3 linked regions of the Homo sapiens genome follow. The gene in region 3 interacts genetically with the main gene of each other region. Each region holds a gene or a part of one and is shown on either strand. Other genes may lie near its edges. The genes, in order: TCOF1, RIT1 and DDX18.

Region 1 (3,724 bases), on a different chromosome or scaffold from region 3:
TCCCCTTGTCTTGTTTCTCCAGGCGAAGGCCTCAGGAAAAACCTCTCAGGTCGGAGCTGCCTCAGCCCCTGCCAAGGAGTCCCCCAGGAAAGGAGCTGCCCCAGCGCCCCCTGGGAAGACAGGGCCTGCAGTTGCCAAGGCCCAGGCGGGGAAGCGGGAGGAGGACTCGCAGAGCAGCAGCGAGGAATCGGACAGTGAGGAGGAGGCGCCTGCTCAGGTGAGGCAGAGGGGAGGGGTGGAGAGTAGCCCCATGCCTAAACCCCAGCACCTGCATGGGTGTGGCCACCTTTGCCACATCCAGCTCCTGTCTCCACACGTCCACCCTCTGGGCTCTCCCCTCATCCTGTTTCTCACTCCAGGCGAAGCCTTCAGGGAAGGCCCCCCAGGTCAGAGCCGCCTCGGCCCCTGCCAAGGAGTCCCCCAGGAAAGGGGCTGCCCCAGCACCTCCTAGGAAAACAGGGCCTGCAGCCGCCCAGGTCCAGGTGGGGAAGCAGGAGGAGGACTCAAGAAGCAGCAGCGAGGAGTCAGACAGTGACAGAGAGGCACTGGCAGCCATGAATGCAGCTCAGGTGAGGCTGGAAGCCGCCCTGCATGGCCTGTGCCCTGCCTCAAAAGACCTCCTGTGGTTTTGACTTTTCCTCTCTGAACCTAGAGCCCTGTGCGGCTGGCTTCGTTTGCTCTCCTCCCCTCACTCACATTCTCCTTCTGGACTCCCTCCCTAATCTTGTCCTTTGTGTCTCCCAGGTGAAGCCCTTGGGGAAAAGCCCCCAGGTGAAACCTGCCTCTACCATGGGCATGGGGCCCTTGGGGAAAGGCGCCGGCCCAGTGCCACCCGGGAAGGTGGGGCCTGCAACCCCCTCAGCCCAGGTGGGGAAGTGGGAGGAGGACTCAGAGAGCAGTAGTGAGGAGTCATCAGACAGCAGTGATGGAGAGGTGCCCACAGCTGTGGCCCCGGCTCAGGTGAGGCCCCTTCCTGTAAGGCTCTTTCTTTTTCCCCCCCACTCAGAGTGGAGCTGCCTGTGGCCTCCCAACCTCACACTGGGACTCTGTCTACAATCTTAGTTTCTTAATGTCTGCACACACCTACCCTGGGCTCCCTCTCCCGATCCTGTGTATCTCACTCCAGGAAAAGTCCTTGGGGAACATCCTCCAGGCCAAACCCACCTCCAGTCCTGCCAAGGGGCCCCCTCAGAAGGCAGGGCCTGTAGCCGTCCAGGTCAAGGCTGAAAAGCCCATGGACAACTCGGAGAGCAGCGAGGAGTCATCGGACAGTGCGGACAGTGAGGAGGCACCAGCAGCCATGACTGCAGCTCAGGTGAGGCCTGGGGAAGGAGGCTGCTACATGGCCTGATCTGCCACACCACAGTCAGCACCCCCGGGGAGCTGTGCTCCCTCAGGCAGAGCATGGGTTTTGGCTGGTGGGGCAGAACAGATGGGGGACTCTGAGTTCAGGAACCTTCTCCAGCCTTTCTTTGGTGTCCCCTCAGGCAAAACCAGCTCTGAAAATTCCTCAGACCAAGGCCTGCCCAAAGAAAACCAATACCACTGCATCTGCCAAGGTCGCCCCTGTGCGAGTGGGCACCCAAGCCCCCCGGAAAGCAGGAACTGCGACTTCTCCAGCAGGCTCATCCCCAGCTGTGGCTGGGGGCACCCAGAGACCAGCAGAGGATTCTTCAAGCAGTGAGGAATCAGATAGTGAGGAAGAGAAGACAGGTCTTGCAGTAACCGTGGGACAGGTGAGGCCTGTGTTTTCTGGGCGGGCCTCAGGGCCGCCCCTACGTGGTCCTTTGGACTCCTGGAGACACCTCTCTTCCCCTTGTCATCCCAGGCAAAGTCTGTGGGGAAAGGCCTCCAGGTGAAAGCAGCCTCAGTGCCTGTCAAGGGGTCCTTGGGGCAAGGGACTGCTCCAGTACTCCCTGGGAAGACGGGGCCTACAGTCACCCAGGTGAAAGCTGAAAAGCAGGAAGACTCTGAGAGCAGTGAGGAGGAATCAGACAGTGAGGAAGCAGCTGCATCTCCAGCACAGGTGAGGCCTAGAAGGAGCAGGCCCATCCCACCCACACCTGTTCCTGAGCCAGGGCTGAGGATGGGCTTGACTGGGGGCTAGTGTTGCCTGCAGGTGTGCAGAAGCCTCAGAGGTAGCCTCAACACAGCTTCCTTCCCTATCTTTCACTCCATGTCTCCTCTGCCCATCAGAGCTCCAGGGTCTCTGTCTTGTTTGCCTTTTGAGGTCCTCCTGCTGATTGATTCCCTGTGGTTTTCACAAGCTCTGGAGTTCCCACCCTGCCAGGTGCTGCCCTTGTCTGGGGTTGCTGAGGCGCTGTTCCTCAGGGAAGTCCTGTCTCTGTGGAGCATGGACATGCTCCTGCAGTGTGGAGCGATGGGGTTGAGATAGAGGGTGTGAGCCTGGGCTGCGCAGCATGACAGGTGAGAGCATCTAGGCCTTTTACAGGAGGTGGCAGCATCTGAGCCATGGGCTGAAAGAGTTGGCCAGGTGAAATGGGCAGGGAGAGTGTTCCAGGCAGAGGAAGCAGTCTGTGCGAGGCCAGGGAATGAGAGAGTGCCTGGCTTGGGTGCCTTGCCACAGGCGGCACATTGTGGTGGGATGGCTGGCAGTTGTTTAGAGCCAGACCGCCTGGGTTCAAGTTTCAGCTCCACAGCCTGGCAAGTGCTGTAAGCCCTCAGAGCCCTTACTCTCCTATAAACAGGAAATCAGCCCTCACAGGTTTGGGTGAGAATTTAGGTGAGATCTCACCTGCTACACCCAGCAAGGGAGCTGCACACAGCAAGTTGTCTCTGTCACCCTGACGATGGGCCAGGCTAATGTGGAACAGATCAGGAGTGAGGTCTCCAAGCCTGGAAGAGCTGAGAGAAGATGGCTCACTCCCTGCACTCACCCACCCACTGTTTATTATTTTTAATTGTCGCTCTGTTTTTTTCTGTAACCACTCAGAAATTAGTCATTTCTTTTTTCTCTGTACCAGAGCACACATTTCTACTGATTTTTTTTTGTCCTCCTCTCGTTGACTTGTGGGACCTCAGGGCTCTAGAATTCCTCCATTGAGGTTTTTAAGCTCTGCAGGGGCCCCTTCCAGAGCCGCCTCTACTCTTTCCCAAGCTGCAGGCACATTCCAGACCCAATGCCTTACAGAGTTTCATTATGCAGCTCACTTAAATATTTGTCTTCCCTTCTGAGCCTCCCACCTGTACCATGAGGTGGGTGTTTTATTTTTATTTTTTGAACCATGGGCTATTTTGAAGTAAGCCGTTTAATTTCCAAATATCTGGGATTACCCAGGTTTCTTTTTGTTGATTTCTAATTTAGTCACATTGTGGTTGGAGAACATATTTTGTATGATTTAAATCCTTTTTTGTGTATTGAGACTTGTTAGGTCAAGTCAGTCTTGTGTCTTGTTTCTTGTGGAAAACATGGCTCCCCTCTGGAGGATTTACGTGCTCTACTGATGAGCACCTCGGCCTGAGTCATACTTGGTCCACACTGTAGGGAATCTTCTTGAAGTCCTGATTCTTCACCTCATTTGACCTCATGTGTTTGAGGAATGCTGGGGGATGGGGTTGTTTTCTGACACTGACCAGATGCCATCCCTGAGTGAGGCAGGGGCCTTGAGATGCTGCCAGAGTCCTCATTCTGTTTCACATTAGGCTTGCTGTCACTCCTGTTAAGGATCTCACTCTGGGAATTTCCCTTTTTTTTTGTTCTCCT
Region 2 (3,500 bases), on a different chromosome or scaffold from region 3:
AGAAATGCCTATTTAAAACTCATCTTACAGAGTAGTACATTGTATCCAAATTCATTAAATGCCCACATTTTCTCAGGAAGCATGCTAAATCCACTGAGATACATAAACTGAGTCTTCAACTGAAGTTTTTTTTTCCACATAGGTGATGATGTAGTTTATTCACAGCTGAAGATTTCACCTACAATTCTAAGCTAAAAAAGGATTCTGAGAAGATGTCTTTCTTAAAAAAATTAGGCTATCTGGGCACAGTGGTGACTGCCTATAATCCCAGCTACTTGGGAGACTGAGACAGGAGTATTGTTTGAGCCCAGGAGTTCAAGACCAGCCTGGGCAACACAGCAACAGCTCATCTTTTTTTTTTTTTCTTGAGACAGGGTCTCACTGTCACCCAGGCTGGAGTGCAGTGGTGCAATTTCGGTTCACTGTAGCCTTGACTTCCCAGGCTCCAGTGATTCTCCCACCTTGGCCTCCCAAGTAGCTGGAACTACAGGCGTGCTACCACCATGTCTGGCTAATTTTTTTGTATTTTTGGTAGACATAGGATTTTGCAATGTTGTCCAGGCTAGTCTCGAACTCCTGGGTTGAAACAATCCTCCTGCCTTGGCCTCCCAAAGTGCTGGTATTACAGGTGTGGGCCACTGCACTCAGCCGAGACCCCATCTCTTAGGGGAAAAAAAAAATTAGGCCTGAAAAGTAACTTTACCATTTATTAAATTGTTATTATCTACCAGACATTATACTAAGTAACTTATATATATTAATTCTTCAATAATCACAATAATCCAATGAAGTAGGCATTATTACCTCCATTTTACAGCTAAAGAAAATTCAACTTGAAAATATTAATGTCTTCTCTAAATTAGTTAATTAGTGACAGAATGAGGATTAAAATCCAAGATTGCTGAACTGAAAAGCATTATTAACCATGTGTTATACTTCCTCCTCAATACTACAAAAAAGGAAAAAAATATATAATTCACTATTTTTTTTTTTTTTGAGACAGGCTCTCACTCTATCACCCAGACTGGAGTGCAGTGGCATGATCTCGGCTCACCACAACTTCTGCCTCCCAGGCTCAAGGGATTCTCCTGCCTCAGCCTCCTGAGTAGCTGGGATTACAGGCACATGCCACTATTGCCCGGCTAATTTTTGTATTTTTAGTATAGACAGGGTTTCACCATGTTGGCCAGGCTGGTCTTGAACGCCTGACCTCAAATGATCCACCTGCCTCAGCCTCCCAAAGTGTTGGGATTACAGGCGTGAGCCACTGCACCCGGTCTAACTGACTATTTTCTAAATAATCCACAGTTTCGTAATTTCTCTTTTCTGAAAGCAAATTTCTTTATGCATATTACTATAGTAACCTTGGAAAATATAGAAAACTAAAAAGAAAAAAAAAGCCACGCAATATTTCATTCACTTAACAACTGCTGCTTACATCTCAATGTATTTCCTTTTAACATTTTTTCTTGAATTCCTGCTTCTGTCTCTTCCTCAAAGATGAAGAGCTCATTAAATCAATGCTTCTCAATTATTCATTAGGATTAGTGAGTTGTGAAATCTACTTAATGGGCCGGGACCAGCATTAAAATAAACAAGCAGAAACCTAAATAAAAATAGAAAATACCAGGCCAGGCACAGTGGTTCATGCCTGTAATCCCAGCACTTTGGGAGGCTGAGGCGGGTGGATCACCTGAGGTCAGGAGTTCAAGACCAGCCTGGCTAATGTGGTGAAACCCCATCTCTACTAAAAATACAAAAATTATCTGGATGTGGTCACAGGCGCCTGTAATCCCAGCTACTTGGGAGGCTGAGGCAGGAGAATCGCTTGAACTGGGAGGTGGAGGTTGCAGTGAGCCAAGATTGTGCCACTGGACTCTAGCCTGGGCAACAGGAGTGAAATTCTCCGTCTCAAAAAAAAAAAAAAAAAAAAAAGAAAAAAAGAAAAAAAAAGAAAGAAAATACCAGAGTGGGTGAGGTACAGTGGCTCTCACGCCTGTAATCTCAGTGCTTTGGGAGGTCCAGGTGGGAGGATCACTTGCGCTCAGGAGTTTGAGACCAGCCTGGGCAATAGAGCGAGACCTCATCTCTACTAAAAATCCAAAAATATTAGCTGGGCTTAGTGGCCTACGCCTGCAGTCCCAGGTATTTGGTAGGGTGAGGCGGGAGGATCACCTGAACCCAGGAGGTCCAGGCTGCAGTGAGCCAAGATCACAACACTGCACTCCAGCATGGGCAACAGAGTGAGACCCTGTCTCAAAAAAAAAGAAAAGAAAAGAAAATATCAGAGTGCACCAGATGTAGTGAGGTAAAGTTTCATAATATTTTAGCTACACATACACATGCGCTTGTGTATATAATTTATATATACATATGCACACATTCATATGCTTTTTTTTTTTTTTTTTGAGGCAAAGTCTCACTCTGTCGCTCAGGGCGGAGTGCAGTGGTGCAATCTCGGCTCACTGCAACCTCTGCCTTCTGGGTTCAAGGAATTCTCCCACCTCAGCTTCCTGAGTAGCTGGGATTACAGGCATGCAGCAGTAACACGCCCAGCTAATTTTTGTATTTTCAGTAGAGATGGGGTTTTACCATGTTGGCCAGGCTGGTCTTGAACTCCTGACCTCAGGTGCCTTGGCCTCCTAAAGTGCTTCGATTACAGGATTGCAGGCTCAGGATTACAGGCGTAAGCCTCCGCACCCGGCCTTGTATGCTTTTATATCTCTACCAGTTACAATGTAAAGTTTTTCTGAGTTTACAGCCAGAGCTTGAAATCAAATGCACTAAATTAGAAACTCAAGAACAGAAACCTCATCTTTTTGATCACCACTGTACCCTGAGGGTAAGCAGTGCTTGGCACATAATAGAAACTCAGAAGACATAAGTATTTGCTGTTGAATCAGATAATATTGCCAGGAGAGTAGTTAACTGGAGGAAAATTGATTAAAACAGATAACTTGGCCGGATGCGGTGGCTCACGCCTGTAATCCCAGCACTTTGGGAGGCCGAGGCGGACGGATCACAAGGTCAGGAGATCGAGACCATCCTGGCTAACACGGTGAAACCCCGTCTCTACTAAAAATACAAAAAATTAGCCAGGCGAGGTGGCGGGTGCCTGTAGTCCCAGCTACGCTGGAGCCTGAGGCAGGAGAATGGCATGAACCCCGGGGGGGCGGAGCCTGCAGTGAGCCGAGATCATGCCACTGCACTCTAGCCTGGGCGACAGTGAGACTCCATCTAAAAAAAAAAAACAAAAAAAAAAATACAGATAACTCTTACAGGAGACGAGTATTTGAGTTTTACTTTAAAGAAAGGGAAAGACGCGGCCGGGCACGGTGGCTCACGCCTGTAATCCCAGCACTTTGGGAGGCCAAGGCAGACAGATCACGAGGTCAGGAGATCGAGACCATCCTGGCTAACACAGTGAAACCCTGTCTCTACTAAAGGTACAAAAAATTAGCCGGGCGTGGTGATGGGCCCCTGTAGTCCCAGCTACTCAG
Region 3 (3,724 bases):
TCATGTCTGTTGGCTGCCTAAATGTCTTCTTTTGAGAAGTGTGTGTTCATATCTTTCGCCCACTTTTTGATTGGGTTGTTTGATTTTTTCTTGTAAATTTGTTTAAGTTCTTAGTAGATTCTGGATATTAGTCCTAGCCAAAATTGACAAATGGGATCTAATTAAAGAGCTTCTGCACAGCAAAAGAAACTACCATCAGAGTGAACAGGCAACCTACAGAATGGGAGAAAATTTTTGCAATCTACCTATCTGACAAAGGGCTAATATCCAGAATCTACAGGTTGACATTTCATTACTTATCTTTCTCCCCCTCAAGACGGCAAGCTCTCTGAGGGCAGAGTCCATGAGTTAGGTACCTATTTTCTCTCTAGCACCTGGCACAGGCCTGTTGCTTTTCTAGTTATCTAATGAGTGATAACTGATGGCAGATCCATCCTGTAGGAGTTTGTGGTCATCATGGCCTCCAGTGTCACAAGCCTCAATACAGGACTGTGGGGGTATTAGGGCCCCTCTTCTGACATGGAGAAAAGGGGCTGATGGCCCTTCTGACTAGAAGCTTCAAGCTGATTCATGGTTGCAAATAGTCAGGATTATAGAGATTCTTACAGAAAAGTGCTTTACTGACTGTGTCCCTATCCAGTTCCTTGCCTTTCAGAAAGAAAGAAGTGCAGATTGCCTAACTCAGCAGAGCAAAGATGTAACTTTCCCATCAACATTGGGAGACTAGAAAAAGCAGATTTTCCTTTCTGTCCTGAGGGAATTTCATAGGCCGGTTCATCCTTCCCTGTCTTCAGTACCCAGTATCGGAATGCTGATCATCCTGGTTTACTAATCTTAATACTTTTGATTTCTAGGTTCCATTAAGTGAATTTGACTTTTCCTGGTCTAAAATTTCTGACATTCAGTCTCAGGTATGTGCTTTTTAAACGTTTGTGAGTAAACAGGAACCTTGTCCCAGCACTCTGTTTGTAGTGATTCACTGGGCAATCACTGTCCTTTGAAGTCTACCCTGTCCTAAAGTGAGGATCAGGCTGTGTAGTGTATAAGGTTTCTTGCTATTCTAGTTATCACCACTCTGTGCCCTCTTTAAATGTTTTCCATGGAGTGGCTTTGCTCTAGGATATTTAAAATCTGGTGTTTTGGAGGTTTTTGTTTGTTTTTGTTTATTAAAACCAGTGTTTCTTTCTATTTCAGCTTGAGAAATTGATTGAAAAGAATTACTTTCTTCATAAGTCAGCCCAGGAAGCATATAAGTCATACATACGAGCCTATGATTCCCATTCTCTGAAACAGATCTTTAATGTTAATAACCTAAATTTGCCTCAGGTTGCTCTGTCATTTGGTTTCAAGGTGCCTCCCTTCGTTGATCTGAGTATCCTTTTCTTTAATGAAGTTATCCTGTGACTAAGGAACAAAAGCTTGACAGAGGGGCATTTGGGGCTTTGCAGTGGATTGGTATGTGTTCTGGCTCAGACTGGAGGCTCCAGTGTTCACCCTGGTCGATGTCTGCTTTTCTGTGCTAGCACAGGACATAGAGGTTGGATGGGGTAAGCAGGGCTTAATCATTAGGATGGGGTTACAGGGACAAGGCAGCTTATGCCTTGAGCCTTCAAAAGACAAAGAAATTTGACTGTCAAGGAGAGACAGAGACAGTTGTGTGTTCCAGGCAGAAACACAGGTTAAAAAAATCAAAACTTCAGTGTTTGCTGAGGCTGCACTGTGCAGGGTACTTAGGTGAATGGGGTGTTTTGAAGCTAAAGAGAGGATGGGACCTTTCAAGGAGTTTTAATCATCTTAGAACCCCTGAAGGATTTTATGCAAGAAAGTGGCAAGTTCAGCAAAAGAAAATAAAACTTAGGTGTTGCTTAAGATAAAAGGCAGGAGTACTTCCAGTTGCTTCAGTTGTGATTTATAATTTGTGCCTTTCAGAAGAAGAAACTGAGCAGCTGAAATGAGGCCTGTGCTTCAGTGCCATAGGGGTAACTTCTGAGGGAACTAGAGGACCAAATTTTGGGTCACCATCCCCATTGTCAGCATTGAGTAAATGTCAGCTGAAATGAATGTATGTCGAGTCCTGTGGAAGGAAGAGCAGCTCCTTCACTTAGGCATTCCTAAATCAATTCCGAAGAGAAATGATAGTCATTTGTTTTGACACAGGAGGTGTTTTTTTAATGTGCTCCTACCAACTTCCTGATTAAACTCATAAATCCTTATTCACTGTCATGAATTTCATCGTGTGGAAGAAATAATTAATATGACTATTACACACCGAAGTTTAAAATCATACCTGCTAATTTAAGTCCACAGTCACGTGGCCACTCCTAATTTTCTGGAAATTTATTGCATAGGCTTATGTTCCCACATTTTCATTGTTGAGAATGGGGTTGTGGAGGAACAGTAGTGTTCATGCCGGTTTTTTTCTCTGTGTAGATGTTAGATTGGAGTTCATTATCTTTTTTGCTTGATTTCCTTAATGTTTGCCTCCAGACGTCAACAGTAATGAAGGCAAGCAGAAAAAGCGAGGAGGTGGTGGTGGATTTGGCTACCAGAAAACCAAGAAAGTTGAGAAATCCAAAATCTTTAAACACATTAGCAAGAAATCATCTGACAGCAGGCAGTTCTCTCACTGAACACATGCCTTCCTTTCATCTTGAATAACTTTGTCCTAAAATGAATTTTTTTTCCCCTTGATTTAACAGGATTTTTGTAGACTTTAGAATTTGGACTTACCTAACAAGAGTATAAATTGACTTGGGTTGCAAGCACTGAGCACTGTTACTTCTATCACGTCTCTCTTTTATTTCTGGGATATAAAACAGGCTTTAAGTTTCTTGGTTGCCCAAGGGCAGAGCAAGGAATATCTGGTGTTTCTTGTGATGATAATATTTTAATTTTAAATATCCCTCCCTCATACAAGTGTATGTTACCATTTTAATATAATTCTTTTTGTACCTTTCCTTCTTGTTTTGCGAAGATTTTTGTGGCATGGATTGCTGTGCTCACTGCTGTAAAAGGTGACCTAGTGTACTGGGCAGCTGGTGGCGGTGCAGAAAAGAGTCTCAGGTTATTTTTTGTTTTTAGTTATTTCTTGGACCTTGACAGTATCTAATGACTCCTCCTGAAAATGCTGCAGTATAAAAGAGCAAAGAGCTTTGGGAAATACCTAAGAAGCACCTTAAGATTAGGGTGGCATTGCTTTTATAGATTCTTGATTTTAAAGCAACAGGCCTTTCTCAGGTGTTGCATTTTTTGGAGCAAAAACTATGGGTTGTAATTTGAATAAAGTGTCACTAAGCAGTTATAACGTTTGATGGCTGGGGGGTAGGAAGAGGATGGAATTGAGATGTTTGAGCCTCATTTACATCAATAGAGGTGTAATGTACTGCATTTCTTCATTTGGTAACATAACAAAGACTTTCATACAAAGAACGATGATGCTCCTCATTAAGATTTGTTTAATTCAAGGTGGTTTGGATTTGGTAAGCCTTTGCACTCTGTAGAGTACTTAGAAGACAAGGGCAACTTACTTGGAGTTAGAGCCAAGCTGTCAGACGGTGCCCAGCACACATTAATGTTAGCTTCTTTCTGAGAAAAAAATACCTCTTCCAGGCCCTGAAACAAAAAATACATTTGCTGTGAAGATTGAAAATGAACAAAGTTAGAAAAAAAAACAGCAAAATCAGTGATTTAGTCAGATGAGTTTTTCGTTGTAGGAGCACTTGAT

The links.
Region 1: changes in DDX18 (region 3) and TCOF1 together harm fitness more than expected from each alone (negative genetic interaction), as found in Homo sapiens cells (one large-scale study listed by BioGRID).
Region 2: changes in DDX18 (region 3) and RIT1 together harm fitness more than expected from each alone (negative genetic interaction), as found in Homo sapiens cells (one large-scale study listed by BioGRID).

Annotation. Positions count from the first base shown.
Region 1 is NC_000005.10:150,374,595-150,378,318, forward strand, and holds part of TCOF1 (treacle protein), read left to right. Parts: intron 1-22; coding exon 23-217; intron 218-359; coding exon 360-569; intron 570-744; coding exon 745-960; intron 961-1,126; coding exon 1,127-1,315; intron 1,316-1,487; coding exon 1,488-1,736; intron 1,737-1,828; coding exon 1,829-2,026; intron 2,027-3,724.
Region 2 is NC_000001.11:155,904,850-155,908,349, forward strand, and holds part of RIT1 (GTP-binding protein Rit1), read right to left. Parts: intron 1-3,500.
Region 3 is NC_000002.12:117,828,095-117,831,818, forward strand, and holds part of DDX18 (ATP-dependent RNA helicase DDX18), read left to right. Parts: intron 1-854; coding exon 855-911; intron 912-1,194; coding exon 1,195-1,372; intron 1,373-2,487; coding exon 2,488-2,630; 3' UTR 2,631-3,724. UniProt on the Homo sapiens protein: ATP-dependent RNA helicase that plays a role in the regulation of R-loop homeostasis in both endogenous R-loop-prone regions and at sites of DNA damage.